Linked DNA regions of Homo sapiens: region 1 is linked to region 2. Evidence: fine-mapped expression QTL. A gene starts in region 2. The other region holds a variant in brackets. All regions are shown on one strand. Distances are from middle to middle.

What was found.
Region 1: its variant is fine-mapped to the expression of RFC1 in whole blood (INTERVAL, PIP 0.94).

The regions. Positions count from the first base shown.
Region 1 is chr4:39,323,196-39,331,534 of GRCh38, forward strand. RFC1 (replication factor C subunit 1) reads right to left here. Exons shown (of 25, transcript NM_002913.5): 5 at 4,329-4,561; 6 at 3,368-3,445; 7 at 145-222. Among named protein-coding and RNA genes, the nearest start is that of RFC1, 39 kb to the right of the region's middle. The variant T/G (reference allele first, on the strand shown) is at 3,525.
Region 2 is chr4:39,361,969-39,370,307 of GRCh38, forward strand. RFC1 (replication factor C subunit 1) reads right to left here and starts at 4,394. Exons shown (of 25, transcript NM_002913.5): 1 at 4,271-4,394. The coding sequence starts at 4,273. RefSeq lists an enhancer at 4,316-4,435.

The sequences.
Region 1 (8,339 bases), 39 kb before region 2:
AGCTTCCCCAAAAACATTTTTATAAAATAATTTAATTTCTTTCTGGAAAAGTTATTCATGTTTTGGCTAGAGCCTAGAACACGCAAGTATGAACACTGATCTGTACTGTATATTCAGAACGCAAATAGCCCAACATTATGCCACCTTTTTGGTCTTGGGTTCTTCATCCAACATGGCTAATGTTCTGGCAAACTCTTCATCTTCATGCAACTGCCTCTCCAGCTGTAAAATGTGTCAGCAAAGTGAGTTGAGTTGCTCTTTTTCTTTTCGTAAATAGAATTTTTAAATGTCTGATTCATATATTTAGAAGAAACTAGAAAAACATTTTCCAGAAAATAATTATGACATTTTCCCACTCAACATTAATAGTGAAGTATCACAGGTTTGTTTCACTAAGCTGAATCAGATTTTGGAACATACAGTTCTGGTTTTGCAGGGATGACAGATAAAGTGAGCATATTTTTAAAGTCATATTTCTTACTTATAAAACATGAGGTCTGTACTTTTCTCTTAATGGTTCTTATGCAACACAGCTTTCTTATTTCTATTTATTATCTAAAAAGACCTCTGAAAGGAATCTCAACCTAATAGGAAAACACAATCATCTGGGGAGTACAAAAATAGTGAATCTAAGAATTTAAAAAAATTATACAGTATTTTTTTGGCACATATAGTAAGCTATATACAAATGTAAAATCACTTTTACTATCAAACTCCTATTTTCAATTACTAATTCAAATGCATCTGTTCTCACTTTTGAAAATTTAAGTCATCATGTCAGGAGTTCTACTAACATGCTAATGTAACACAGAGACATTCTAGTTATCTCAGTTATTTCAAAATACTTTCACATTCAGCAAAATGGAGCTCTTCCAAAAGAGAATATATAGCAGTGGAGTATCTTTCTCATTATAAACCAAATGGCTGTATGCTCCCTGGTAAAATGGCCTTACGTGATATTCAATAAAAAACACCCTACATTATTCAAACAAAGAAAAGGACTTCAAAATCCACTCAATCTTTTAAAAGTGAAGTGAAAAAAAAGGGAGGAAAAACTCTTACAGGGATAATTAGTAAAGACATCTTCAGTTACTGACACCTAGAAGTCCTTAATCAGATTAATAAATTACCCAAACAAGATTCTGAAAGAATGTGATAAAAATGGAAAAATAGAGGATTGTGATACAAAGTACCACACCTGGTTTGGAAAGGATTAGGTAACCCTCTAGTATTTGGATCAGGAGAAGTCAGGTTCCTAAAAATTACTTCCTAGTTTGACCTAGGCTACTTGTGCTACCTTGAGTCATGTGGATACTCGCTTGTAGTTTATGTAATTCAGTGTGATCAAATAAGATAGAAAAACATTTTGAAAACACAAACTAAACTGCCAAAGTAATAAAATGTGAACAATCACAATATTGTTCTCTCACAATAATACTTATCAAGAGCCCATTGTATGCCAGACACTAAGATAAGCACTGATGTAACAATGGTTGAGTGAGACATAAATGGTTGAGACAAATGGTTGAGTGAGAGTCCTGGTGAGGGGACCTTAGAGCCTATACTTGCCATTCTAATTAAATAGCAAGTATAATAAATGATAATAGTAGCTATGACAGAGTGTGACAGAGTATATCGGAGGGGTTTCTAATATAGTTGAGGTAGTCTGGGAAAGTGACACTTAAGCTAAGCAAGAGGAAGGGAGTTCTAACAGCCGGCAGCTAAGCCTGGAACCTCTGACAGAGATGAGCGCTCCTCCCTGAAATACTTTCTTTGGCTTCTGTAAGATATCAACCTCTCCTGATGTTCCTACTTCACTAGCCACTCTCTCCTCTCCTTTGCTGGATCATCCTCCTTTTCCTGACCTCTAACAGTGGCCCAGGGCTCAATCCTGAGACCTTTCTTTCTTTTCTATTTGCATTATCTCCCCATGATCTCATCCAGTTACACAGGTTTAAATATTACTCAACTGGTAATGATTTCCAAATGTCCATCTTCAGTTTAGACTTCTCCCCTGAGTTCCTGACTCTTCTACCCAACCACCTACTCTGCCTTTCCATTTGGAAGTCTATTAGACATCTCAAACTTAACTTGTCCAAAAGATCTCTCTGTACCAAACCTGTTCTGCTTCCTGTGTTCCAGCCTTAGTAAATCGTATCACCATTCACCCAGTTGTTAAGGCCATAACTGAATATTATTTTCCGAGAGACAAGGTATTGCTCTGTCACCCAGGCTGGAGTGCAGTGGCACAATCACAGCTCATTGCAGCCTGAACCTCCCAGGCTCAAGCAATCCTCCCACCTCTGCCTCCCAAGTATCTGGGACCACAGGTGTGCACCACCATGCCCAGTTGATTTTTGTATTTTTGGTAGAGATGGGATTTCCCTATGTTACCCAGACTGGTCTCAAACTCCCAGGCACAAGTGATCCTCTCACCTCGGCCTCCCAAAGTGCTGGGATTACAGGCATGAGCCACCACACCCAGCCTCATCTGTGAATCTTCTTCCCTCACACCTTACATCCAATCTGTCAAAAAGAACTTGCATGTTTCAAGGCACATTCAGATTATGCCCACTTCTCACTGCCTTTTCCTATTACAAGCTGACATCTCTCACCTACCATTCAGTCTGCAAACTGATCTGCTTTTGATCTTGCCCCCACCATGAACTATTAACATCATCGAAGCCAAAGTAATTTTCTTTTAAGATCCACCAAGTCATGTCACTTTTCTATTCAAAACTCCAATGGGGCTGGGTGTGGTGGCTCACACCTGTAATCCCAACAATTTGGGAGGCCAAGGTCAAGACCAGCCTGGCCAACATGGTGAAACTCCGTCTCTACTAAAAATACATAAATTAGCCAGGCGTAGTGGTGGGCGCCTGTAGTCTCAGTTACTGGGGCAGGTGAGGCAGGAGAATCACTTGATTCCCAGGAGGTGGAGGTTGCAATTAGCCAGATTATGCCACTGCACTCCAGCCTGGGCAACAAAGCGAGACTCTGTCTCAAAAAATAAAAAATAAAAACTCCAATGGTTTCCCATTTGGAAGAAACTAAATTCCAAAGTCCTTATAATTAACATCCTTTTTGTAGGTATCAAAGACCTATCATGACCTACAGGATTTGCTGCTAGCCATTTCTTCAAAATCATCTCACAGCACTTGATCAATCTTCTCTAAAAATAAATCTTTCAGTAAATAATTCTCCCCTGGTCTCATCATTTATCTTGTATAGAAATTTAGATTTTCATTTATTAGATTTTAACTTATTTTACATGTAACTTCCAATGAGGTTCAATTCAAAACCTGGCTGGACTAAATAGCTAGTCAGAATATCAAGTTACTAATGATTCTAAGCAAAATGCCAATACCTCCGCATCTTCATCAAGCTGTAATTGCTTGGCGATGGCTTCATCATTTAATCCAGACTCATCTGTATTTTGTGAAAGCTATATTTCAAAGAAAATCAAGCAAAATCAGCATAAACCTTAAGTTAAAAATAAGGCACTTTTTCTTGACTGTTGCTGA[T/G]TAAATACACCAGTGAGAGATAAGTGTATCTATCAGTAACAGCTGCAATGTACACCAGCCAGAAAGTCAAATTTATGGCTACTCCCTGACCATATCCAATCCCTAATAAATATCCTATAGACAGACCTGTCTCACTTAGTTCTATTGATATGTTCAAGAGAAGTACCAAAAATAAAAATAAAAAAACCCAATCCTGTAGATTAATGTCTTGGCTTGACAAGTAGCCCAGAACATTGGCAAACCAATATGTGAGAATGATTACATTGTTCTATGGAGGAAGTGATAGAATCAACAAACACACACTATGGGGCAGGCTTTCTTTAACTCAGGGGACTACTTTCACCATAATTTATCTGGTATGTCTGTTTCCTAAATGGCCAGAAACAGATGAATCCAATATCTGCCAAAGTAGAGAAGGTCACAAGTGTAGCATAGGTATGCTCTATTTATAAGGAATCTATTTATTATCTCATTTGGAAACAAATTTATCGCTAATATTGACTGGTTGAGGTCAATAGTAAAATGAGTTTCCATTCTGAGAACTCAATTTAAATTCGAATAATTATCATTTTTTCTTATGGCTTAAATGATCTTTTCCCGCTTTCAAGAATTAAAAAATTAAATATGTAACATTCCAACTTCCTCATCCTTTAAAATGAGGGCAATACATTTTATCCATAATCATAGGAAAATTATTTTAATTATTAAAACATGTTGCCTATTTACTACATCCTAGTTTCTCCTGTTAATATTAGTGAATGGGTATAAATCCTGAGCATACTTGCTTATATGTAGAACACTTACCTCTTTTCTTTTGCTTGCCACCATCTTCTTATTAGATCTTTGGACACTTCCAGTTCCAAAATAATCAAGTACTGATGTGGGTGTAAGTTTTATTGGTGATAAAGGCTTATTCTTGGTCTTAGTGTTTTCTTCATTCTTTTTCATGTTTGATGTTCCAAGATGACTATTTGTAGATCTTCCATTCTCTTTTGATTTAGAGGCCGCCTTCTTACACATAAAGTCATCTTCTTCATCTTAAATGAAATGTAACCAAATATTTTTTATAAAACATCAATTCGGTTATACAAAGAAAACACTTCTACCAACTTTATAAAAAGTATACAAGAGGCTAGACATGGTGGCTCATGCTTGTAATCCCAGCACTTTTGGAGACCAAGATAGGAGAATCATTTGCGCTCAGGAGTTCGAGACCAGTCTGGGCAACATCATGAAACTCCTTCTCTTCAAAAAAATTAACAAAAAATTAGCCAGGCATGGTGGTACACACCTGTAGTCCCAGCTACTAGGGAGGCTGAGGCAAGAGGATATAAACCCAGGAGGTTGAGGCTGCAGTTAGCTGTGATTGCACCACTGCACTCCAGTCTGAACAACAAAGACCCTGTCTCAAAAACAAAATAAACATCCAAGAACTTAGAGATGCTAATAACTTTTTCCCCCTATCTCCAAAATTCAACCATCATCCCCACATTTACCAGTGCCAGGCCTGTAATACGCTATATCCCCCAGTTACTACCAAGAGTACACAAATATTTACTGAGCACTCATTATGTACCAGGAACTTAAGATACAGCAGTGAATAAAAAAGACAAAATCCCTGCCCTCATGGAACTTAAAGTCTAGAAGAGGAAACAGATATACAAATAAACAAATATACACTGTCAAGTTAAATGTTCTATGAATAAAAAGTAAAACAGGGTGAAAGAATTAAAGAGTGATGAAGGGTACTCTTTGAGATAAGGTAGTGAGGGAATGCCTCTTTGATAAACAACATTTTAACGGAGGCCTGAAATGAAGATACCTCAGGCAAGAATATCTGGGCAATTAAAACTACAAATGGAAAAGCCGAGACGGAAGTGTGCCTGGAGTTCAATGTGGCTGCAGCACAATGCGGAGGCGTGCCAGAAGAGTTCGGGTGAAAGAGGTAGGGGCCAAATCCTGGAGGACTTTCTAGGCAATAGGAATAATTTTAGTCTTTATTATAGAACGGGAATCCACTGGAGAATTCTGAGAATAGTTTGTGACCCAACTTAAGGCCTGTCATTTGGAAAACACACTGCAGAGCGGGGAAAGTGAATGCAGGGAGACCACTTAGAAAGCTACTGCAGTTTCAGATGAGATACGGAAGGCTTGGACTGTGGTGGTATTTGCAGAGGTAGTAAGTTGTCAGGTTCTAGCTATATATTGCAGGTGAACCATCTACTGATATCTAACCATTCATTTAAGACCATAAATTCTTTGTTACATTTTATTTTTCTAAAAAGTTTCCACAAAACATCTGGCTTTAAATGTCTTTTTAAGCATTCATGACAACGTTTAGATAATTAGGAGCTCCAAAAATGTACCTCAAAAGGGCCTCAATAAATTTGTTTGCTTCAGTGACTCACAAAAAAAAAAAAAAAAAAAAAAAAAAGCTTTTCGATTTGGCCTATAAACAAAAGAAATCCAATAAAAATGAAAATCTAAGAGACAAACATGAGGCCGGGCACGGTAGCACACACCTGTCATCCCAGTACTTTGGGAGGCTGAGGCGGAGGATTGCTTGAGCCTGGGAATTCAAGATCAGCCTGGGCAACATAATGAGACTCCATCTCTACCAAAAAAAATTAGCTGGGGAGGCAGGCAGATCACTTCAGGTCAGGAGTTCAAGACCAGCCTGGTCAACATGGTGAAACCCCATCTCTACTAAAATTACAAAACTTAGCCGGGCGTAGCGGTGCGCGCCTGTAGTCCCAGCTACTCCGGAGGCAGAGGCAGAGGGTGCAGTGAGCTGAAATTGTGCCTCTGTACTCCAGCCTGGGAGACAGAGCAAGACTCTGTCTCAAAAAAAAAAAAGAAAAAGAAAAATTAAGCTGGGCATGGTGGTGCAGGCCTGTAGCCCCAGCTACTCAGGAGGCTAAGGCAGTAGGAGGATCGCTTGAGCCCAAGAAATGGAGGCTGCAGTAAGCCTCGATTGTACCACTGCACTCCAACCTGTCTCTAAAAAAAACTTTTTTAATACAATTGAAAATAGGCCAGGTGCAGTGGCTCACACCTGCAATCCCAGCACTCCGGGAGGCCGAGATGGGCGGATCATTTGAGGTCAGGAGTTCAAGACCAGCTTGGACAACATGGTGAGAGCCCGTCTCTACTAAAAACATAAAAATTAGCTGGGCGTGGTGGAGTATGCCTGTAATCCCAGCTATTTGGGCAGCTGAGGCAGGAGAATCACTTGAACTGGGAGGCGGAGGTCACAGTGAGCTGAGATTGCACCACTGCACTCCAGCCTGGGCGACAGAGTGAGACTCCCTCTCAAAAAAAAAATTTTTTTTTAAATAAAAGACAACCATGAAGACTAGGTCTTGGTGGGGATGGGGGACGGTTCACTGTATCAATTTGGTATGCAAAGCCACATATGAGTGGCTCCTATGTCCTCTCAACTGCTCCCTCATTCAACTATGAACATTTGCTAAAGGCCTTACGTCCCAGGCACTGTGTTATCCTTAGGTGGCTGCCATTTCAAACATGAAAGTATCTAATGATATGTAAAAATCAAAAGGATTCAGCCTTACCTTCTAATTATTATATTTATATTAAAATGAAACTATAAATTTTGCAACACTTCACTCTTACAGGTTTCTGATTACTAAATGTAAAAAGTAACCCACTATTTAAAGCAAGCATGTAGTAGAAATCTCTGAGGATGCCAGTGCCCTTCACTACAAGCACATTTTCTCTAATAATTTACAGCTCACCCCTCCCTCCAAGGGCCTCCAAAAACCACAGATATATCCATTAGATGGCTCCACACTCTTGACCACAATCAGCTAGACCAGGAGTGAGCACTTCAGCAAGGTGGGGCCAACTTTATCCTTGATTTGCTCAACCAGTATGTACAAACCAAGGTGCAAAAGGTTTATTTCTACATTCAATGAGATAAGTTAGCAGGCTCCTAATAAATTTCCCCATTTTGCTTACACTAAAGTGTTTGCAACCGAAAGAGTTAAATTAAAACATACTTGTTTCACTTCTCTTCAACTATAGTCAATCTACCGTCAAGCTTTAATTAAAAATTTATCCATAACTCTTTCTAAAGCACATCCAAGGCCTGATACAATTAACAGATTTCAGTTCAACCACGTTACAAAGAGTCAACAGACTAGGTTCAGTCATTCATATATATATATACACACACACACACACATATATATATATTCTCCCTACCTAACTACTGGTTCTTCTCTGCCTCTTTGCCAGACGGGAAAAAGGCTTTGCAAAAGGCTAGGTAACATCACCATTCCATTTATAACAGCCACGTGGATCACCCATAATAGTCCTAGTAACTAACCATTGAGAATATAATCTCAAAGTCCTTTCCTTTTCTCTAAAATAATTACACAATGATCATGGTATTATAGAAACTCAAATTTTTTTAATACTTGACAGCTGACCAGCTATACCCAGTATATGTTAAATTTCTTATCTTATTAAATTTTATAATGTTTATTTGCTTTAAGTTCAACAATTGTACTTCTGGGCAAGAGGGAGTCCCTTAATGGAGAAAGAACAAACTTAAATTGTCTCTGAAATGATGGTGCTCTACTAGTTTCCTACCACCTTAAAAATGCCTAAAATACTAACATTCCATTTCCACTACACTTAGCCGTGCTTATAAGCAGTATGACAGAAAACCCCATAGCTGAGTGGGTGAGATCAACTACTATGGAGAGCAGATTGTAACAGGGCAAGAAAAGGGGAAGACAAAAAGTAAATGACCACGTAGGCAAAGATGGCCTCAACAACCATAACAATGGC
Region 2 (8,339 bases):
GCGGAGCTTGCAGTGAGCCAAGATGGTGCCACTGCACCCCAGCATGGGCAACAGAGCGAGACTGTCTCAAAAAAAAAGAAATCAGTTCCATTAAAAAAATCACCAAAAAGAATAAAATACTTACGAATATATTTAACAAATGAAGTGTAAAACTCACACTGTGAAAAACTACAAAATACTATTTAAACAAACTGAAGACCTAAACAAATGAAGGCATCCCACATTCATGGATCGGAAGATGTAATATTGTTAAGATGGCAATATTCCCTAAATTGACCTACAGATTCAATAAATTCCCTATCAAAATTCCATGTGGCATCTTTGCTGATTCTAAAATTCATATAGAAATTCAAGGAAATGGAATAGCCAAGACAATCTTGAAAAAGAACAAAGGTGGAGGACATACTTCCTGACTTCAAAAATTATGACAAAGCCACGGTAACACAGTGTGTTGCTGGCATTTAGATAGATATATAGATCAATGGAACAGAACTGGGAGTTTAGAAATCAACTCTCGCATTTACAGTCAACTGATTTTTGACAAGGGTGCCAAGATAATTCAATGGAGAAAGAAGAGTCTTTTCAAAAAATGGTTCTGGGACAACTAGATGTCCACATATAAAAGAATAAAATTGGACCTCTATACTTCACACCCTATATAAAAATTAACTCAGAAATGGATAAAAGTCCTAAATGTAAGAGCTAAAACTACAAAGCTCTTAAGCATAAATCTTCATGACCTTGGATTAGCAAGAGAAACTTAAATGATGAAAAAAAGACAGACATGCAAGGATGTGGAGGAAGACTATTTCAAAGAAAGAAAATAGCAACAAAAGCCCGGAGAGAAACAGAACCAACCTAACACACTCAAAAGACAGAGAGAGAAAATCAGAGAGGTAGGTAGGGGCCTTAGAGGCCAAGTTCAGGTACATATGCATGGCAAAAGCATATTATTTGGCAAAAGCTATATTATAATAAAGTCGAGCACTGCTCCAGGGAGAGCATTCCACATAGTAAACCATGATGTGAAAGTTGCCTGCCTGTAGGAGTGGAGCAATGAAACAGTTCAGACCACAATTTATTTAAACTGACCTCACGGCTCTTCAAACAGCTGTTCCTTAAGTCTCATGTGTGTTTAATTCAATCTTATGCATATTTTCAATAATTATACCAACCAATTAATTATATATGCTGACTTCTTAAAAATGGCATCTCTCAGGTTTTATTCACGTTTTGTGCAAACAATTAAATCTCAGTGAAATTCAAATTGTCTACATGGCTTCTTTATTTCTTTTATTTTTAATTTTCTTTCTATTTATTTACGTGGTTCAAATTTCGAAAGGGTAAAAAGTCCCCCTCTTATCCTGCCTCTCAGACACATATTTCCCATCTCTGGAGGCAACAAATGTTATCAGTTGGTTCCTTCTGTATCTTTCCAGAGAAATTTTATATTTTGGCAATTGTTTCATATCAGAGTATAAAGTTTTCTCATTTTTATAAAGGTTGCACAGTATTCCATTGTGTGAATACACGTACTTTATTTCTTTATTGATAACTTTTAATTGGAATTTTTGTTTTCAATGCAGCTCCCAGGGCAAGAGCTGTCTATGGATGGGCTTCAGAAGATAAGTGAATAGGCCAGGCACAGTGGTTCATGCCTGTAATCCCGGCACTTTAAGAGGCTGAGGCAGGTGGATCAACTTGAGGCCAGGAGTTCAAGACCAGCCTGGCCAACATGGTGAAACTTCATCTCTACTAAAAATAAAAAAATAAAATAGCTGGACATGGTGGCACACACCTGTATTCCCAGCTACCAGGCAGGCTGAGGCACAAGAATCGCTTAAACCTGGTAGGCAGAGGTTGCAGTGAGCCAAGACTGCACACTGCACTCCAGCCTGGGCAAAACAGCAAGACTCTCAAAAAAAAAAAAAAAAGAAGAAGAAGAAGAAGATGATAAGTGAACAGGCCAGGCACAGTGGCTCATGCCTGTAATCTCAATGCTTTGGGAGGCCAGGGTGGAAGGATCGCTTGTACCCCGGAATTAGAGATGGCAGTGAGCTATCATCACACCACTGCACTCCAGCCTGGGCAACAGAGCAAGACCTTGCCTTTAAAAAAAAAAAAAAAAAAAAAAGAAGAAGAAGATAGGTCAATCCCTTAAAATGGTGTGTATATGCCCATATGCATTTCTCTGGGCAGAAAATTTGCATATCATTCACTGTATTTATCAAAGGAAACTGTAACTGAAACAAAGATTGAGAACTACTGTCCTTCATACCCAACGACACAGTCTGAGGGAAAAAAAAAAAAAAGAACTACTGTCTTATAACTTTGCACAAGTGTTCAATAAACATTTGTTGAATCAATTTTAGTCTAGGGTTTTGCTAATTGTTGCACTAGAGACTGGAGGGCTAAATTAAATATCAGTATAATACAAAATTCTTATCTACCTCATAGGATGTTTACCCACTAACAACAAAACTGACCAATTTGACCTATTTCTTTTCTGAGAAGAGGTCTATTTTTTATCTGCACCATGAACAGGAGTACTAAAGAAAGAAAAGAACCAAAAGTAAAAGCACCTGAATGATCAAAAGTTGACCACACAAGCTATGTTCACCATAAATGACAGAGGAATCTACCATGCCTCTTAAAATCTATGTAACTTTCCATAGAGTCCTTTCTGAGAAAATAGATCACTGGTAGCTGTGTAGTTGCCTAACATGCCAGGCACCAGAACCAGAACGGAAGCTTTACCTATACATCTTGCTTAATCCCCAAAACAATCACTATGGCAGCTATTATTTTCCCCTCTTTTACAGATAAGGAAACAGAGGCTTAAAGAGATTAAACTTAAGCTATTTACTTGCCCAAGACCACGTAACTATTAAACTAGACTATACTAACATAGTAATATAACTATAAATTAATATATAAACCATTAAACTAAAATATTACCACGTTCTTCATCTTCAAGACTCCAAGTCTCAAGCTTCCAAAATACCACAGTGCTTTGGCCTCCAAAATGTAATGATGATCATTATAGGGAAGTAGTATAACATGGTGGTCAGAAACACCAAGATTCTAATTCTAGTTCAACCACCTACTAGTTATATGATACACTGTTTAAATTCCAAAAAGGTGCTTGCACCATCTGTAAAACTGCATCGATGTGGGTTGAAATGAAAAAAAAAAAAAAAAAAAAAAACCATGGAAAACCAACAGTTCACATATTGACCTAAAGAAGATGCTTGGTACAAGGTAGCTACTATCATTACTGTTGCCCTTTTTTGAGAAGAAACACAAAGGCCTGCAACGTTTCCCAGTGTGGCATAAAATTTTCACCGCCCCCCCCCAGAATGTTGTCACTGTGACACGTTGACCAATGATTGAAAAAAATTATATCGGATTGTTAAGTATCTTCTAGCTTAATGAACATTTTAAATGGTCCTTTAAAAATATTTCAAACACAGAGCCATATCCATTGCCATACCATCAGGAATGTCTGCTTTGCTGGCTGCATAATCATTTCACTTTCAATTTGTTTGAACATTTTATCCAGAATTATGCAGTGAGGCTTGGGTTTTTTTCAGATTTTAAACATCAGGTGGTAAGAGGATGACAGCTGTCAAATGTCTTGCATCTGTTTCTATTCGCTGTACTTCTTTTTCCTAGTAAGCCATGTTATCCTTTTGACTCCTATGAACTCATCTAAACAAAATAAAATATCCTCTCCATGCCCTCGGTCTCAACACCGCTCAGGTGATCGTTAATGACGAGCGGAGATGAGACGAGCTGAGCTGTTAATGATAAAAGTTTAAGGCCCTACACAACATATTCCCTAAGAAAGAAAAGTTTGTTACATTCTTCTCCCTCGTGACCCAAAGCTTGAAATCCACGCTTTAGGCAGTACTCAAACTGAGGTTCGGGCAACGCCGAACAAGAAAATAACTTTACCAATGCGTCCCAAAACCACCATCCTTCCTCTCTTCCTTTCTCCCTTCCCCCAAGAGTGGGGGGCGGGGGGAAAGTGCAAGTACACGTAGCAACAAAATCCCTGCGCGCTGGCTGCCGCCCAGAGCCAGAGCCCGCGATGCAATGAAAGTTTTGCGTCCAGTGCCCGGTGTGCGGCCCCTTCTCTGCCTTTGCTAGCCTCCGGAACCACCCACCGCCATCCTCCCCCACCCTGCATACCAGGAGTGCCCGGTCCACACCAGGCCTGCAAAGCCCCCCCAGACCCCGAGCCGCACGGCCTCCCCCAGCGGCTCACCATCGCAGCCCCAGGATGAAGGCGCTGGCTGGCTGGCGGGTGGGCCGGTTGAGGAATCTGTTATCGAGGCTCAGGATCCATTCGCGCCAACAACTTCTCCCGCGAAGTGCAAGAAGGCGAAGACAGTGGCGCGCGGTGATGACGTCAGGAGGCGCGAGCTTTGCTTCCGTCCCGCCCAGAGGCGGGAGGTGCGACGCCTGCCCAGGTGCTGCCCCGAGGGCAGGCGGGCCGCTGACATCGAGAGGAACCACGGTGCTTTGGTGTGAGCTCGGTTTTTGGCGGGGGCGCTAAAGTAGGGGGATCCGATATTGGTTTCCTTGGCAGGCGGGGTACCCAAGTACCTCCCGGTTACACGTCTGGACAATGCACTTCCCTATAGTAACTTTGAAAAGTTTTTACTACCAACTTTAGTAAGATAAATGTTTTAGCTGTGCGTTTTACATATTATGTATAAATATCTATTCTGTAATAAGGTTTCATCAAGAGGCCGGACGCGGTGGCTCACCCCTCTAATCCCAGCACTTTGGGAGGCCGAGGCGGGTGGGTCACCTGAGGTCAGGAGTTCGAGACCACCTGACCAATGTGGTGAAACCCCGTCTCTACTAAAAATACAAAAATTAGCCAGGGGGTGGTGACGTGTGCCTGTAGTCCCAGCTACTCGGGAGACTGAGACAGGAGAATTGCTTGAACCCAGGAGGCAGTGGTGCAGTGAGCCGAGATCGAGCTACTGCCCTTTAGCCTGGGCGACAGAGCGAAACTCCGCCTCAAAAAAAAGAAAAGATACCGAAAGCTTTGGGGTAAACCAGTTGTATATGAATAGATTAGCAATTGAATCACGGAATACAATGAAACATTTGCGTACGATTTCAAGAGAAAGATTAGACCATAAAGAGTTCAATGGAGAAAGCAGTATCTCCAGCTTTGGCTCTAGCTACACTTTTGAAATTCTCACCCATCCACCCCCTGTTGGGTCTTGCGCTTTATGACACCAACATTTCTATGGCGAAAGATAGAACAGCCTGGAATACAACAGAGGCTGAGCATTGACAGCTTGTATTTATTAAACGCCTATTGTTGTACGTGCAGCTCTGGACTAGCCTAGCTCATTTTATCCCCATGATGACACTGACTACTCTTATCCCGAATTTACAGACAGACTGTTACTTATTAACAGGGCCTCACTGCACTGTTCCCTCTGAAGCCAGGATGCTAGGTCTCCAGCCCCACCACCTGCTATTTATGTGACCAAGGGCAAGTTACTGTGCCTCGGTTTTGTCTTAGCAGACATATCACACAAATTTTTGCCCATAATTTTAGAGGACCTACACCAATTTATAATGTTCATTGTGTTATAAATCAATAAATGAGTAAATAAGACATAAAAAGTTGTACGTGTCTTTTATATTACATTCCTCTTAACTTTTGCTTTTTTTTTTTTTTGGCATTTGAAGCCTTCCTTGAGTTTAAATGAGACTTAAGTCAGGAGACTGTAACTTCTTTGTGAGATTGTTTTCTTTAGGAATATTTATTTACATGAAAATACTCTATCTCAGAAATATACCAGATCTAAAATGACTGCATATGCTTTGAAACTCCTCCCTTGAACCTGGACTGGCCTATGACTGATTTGATCAAAGAATACAATGGAAGTGATACTATGCCAACTCCAGACCTAAGCTTTAAGAAGACTGGCAGCTCCTGTCTTGCTCTCTTGGAGCACCATGTAAAGCCAGGGAGGTGGTCATCTGAGACCAGCCTTATAGCCATCTCCACCAGGCACCATGCATGTAAATGAAGCCATCTCAGATCCCATCCAGCAACTGATGGAATTTCACTAGCTTTGTTGACCCCATTCAACACCTGGGAGAGCAGAAAAATCACTCAGTCAAGGCCTGTCCAAATTTCCTGACCCACAGTAGCGTGAACATAATTAAATGATTGCTCTGTTAAGGTAATAAGTATTGGAGTGGTTTCTTATAAAGGAATAGATATCCAGAATGGAAATATTTTTGAAGACCCAAAATAGGACTGAGCATGGTGGCACATGCCTATAATCCCAGCACTTTGAGAGGCCTTGTCTCAGGAAAAAAAAACAAAAACAAAAAAAAAGTGAAACCAATCAGAAAAGATTTCCCTGCTGATCCATGCCTTTTTGTTAGCAGAATAATGGCATGGAAAGAAATTCACTCCTTGAAAACAGTATGGATATAAGCTTTTGCCTATCACAGCAAGTTTACATTTATGGATGCCTGCTGCATTAGCACATGCCGGCACTGTTATTCCATCCTTCCCATCCTTAATTCCTTTATGGGCTAGCTCATCAGCCATAGTTAGTATCTATCTGGGGCAAATAACACCAAAACAGTGATGTTTCAGCAATCTTGTAGACTTGGTCTAGTGTCAGATTTTCATGAGTGAAAATATTGGCAAATTCATCAACACATTTCTCCACTGCTTTGTGATCAGCAGATGCTTTATTGCCACAGATTTTTTAAAAATGTAACACCCTGTCTTTTCTTAAATTTATGCAACCAGCCAGTTGAATATGCACAATTCCCTTCAATTTTTAGTTCATTGCAATAGATCTTTGTTTCATGATCAGCATACCATCACGTGGCATGTGTTCACTATGATGCTTATGAATTTATGCTTTCAATACATGATTGAGATTTTCTTTTTTAGCTTTACGTAGTTTTTTTTGGGGGGGGGGTTGTTTTGTTTTTTGTTTTTGAGACGGAGTCTTGCTCTGTCACCCAGGCTGGAGTGCAGTGGCGCCATCTCGGCTCACTGCAACCTCCGCCTCCCAGGTTCAAGCGATTCTTCTGCCTCAGCCTCCTGAGTAGCTGAGATTACAGTTGTGCACCACCACATTTGGCTATTTTTTGTATTCTTAGTAGAGACGGGGTTTCACCATCTTGGTGAGGCTGGTCTCGAACTCCTGACCTCGTGATCTACCCATCTCGGCCTCCCAAAGTGCTGGGAGGGTTTTTTTGGTTTTGTTTTTTTACTTTTCATTAACTTCTGTTCATCACTTTCAGCATAAACCTTCAACAGTTTTTCCTTCTGTTTCTTCAAATCATATATGGTGGTCATTCCAATCCCATACTCTTTTGTAAGATTTTCACACTTATACTGCTGTCCAACTTCTCTAAGGTTGACTTTCTGTGCCACAGATAAACATAAATGCTTCCTCTTTTTCTTATCACTGTTACCCAAAGGGGTATCTGCAGGCCTTTTCGACATTTTCAGCAATATCTGTATACCACAAAGCAGAGAATAATCAAAAAACCGCAGAAGGCCAGGCACAGTGGCTCATGCCTGTAATCCCAACACTTTGGGAGGACAAGGAAGGAGTATTGCTTGAGACCAGGAGTTCGAGGCCAGGAGTTCAAGACCAGCCTGGGCGACAGAGCAAGATGCTGTCCCAAAAACAAAACAAAACAAAAACCACTGTAAACAATCTGAATGTTAACTGTAAAGAAAATGGATAAATTGAAATATATTCATACAACAATAAAAATCAATGAAATACAGATCATACATCATACAACACTACAGATCAGTCTTGTATACTTTTTTTTTTTTTTTTTTTTGAGATGGAGGCTTGCTCTGTCACCCAGGCTGGGATACATTGGCGAAATCTCAGCTCACTGCAACCTCTGCCTGCCAGGTTCAAGCAATTCTCCTGCTTCAGCCTTCCAAGTAGCTGGGATTACAGGCATCCACCACCATGCCTGGCTAATTTTTGTACTTTTAGTAAAGACAGGGTTTCATCATGTTGGTCAAGCTGGTCTCTAACTCCTGACCTCAAATGATCCACCCACCTCGGCCTCCCAAAGTGGTAGGATTACAGGTGTGAGCCACTGCACCTGGCCCAGTCTTATATACTGATATGGTTTGGCTCTGTGTCCCCACCCAAAACTCATCTTCTAGCTCCCATAATTCCCATTGTTGTGGGAGGGACCCAGTGGGATAGGAGATAATTGAATCATGATGGTGCATCTTTCCTATGCTGTTCTCATGATAGTGAATGGGTCTCATGAGATCTGATGGTTTTAAAAACGGGAGT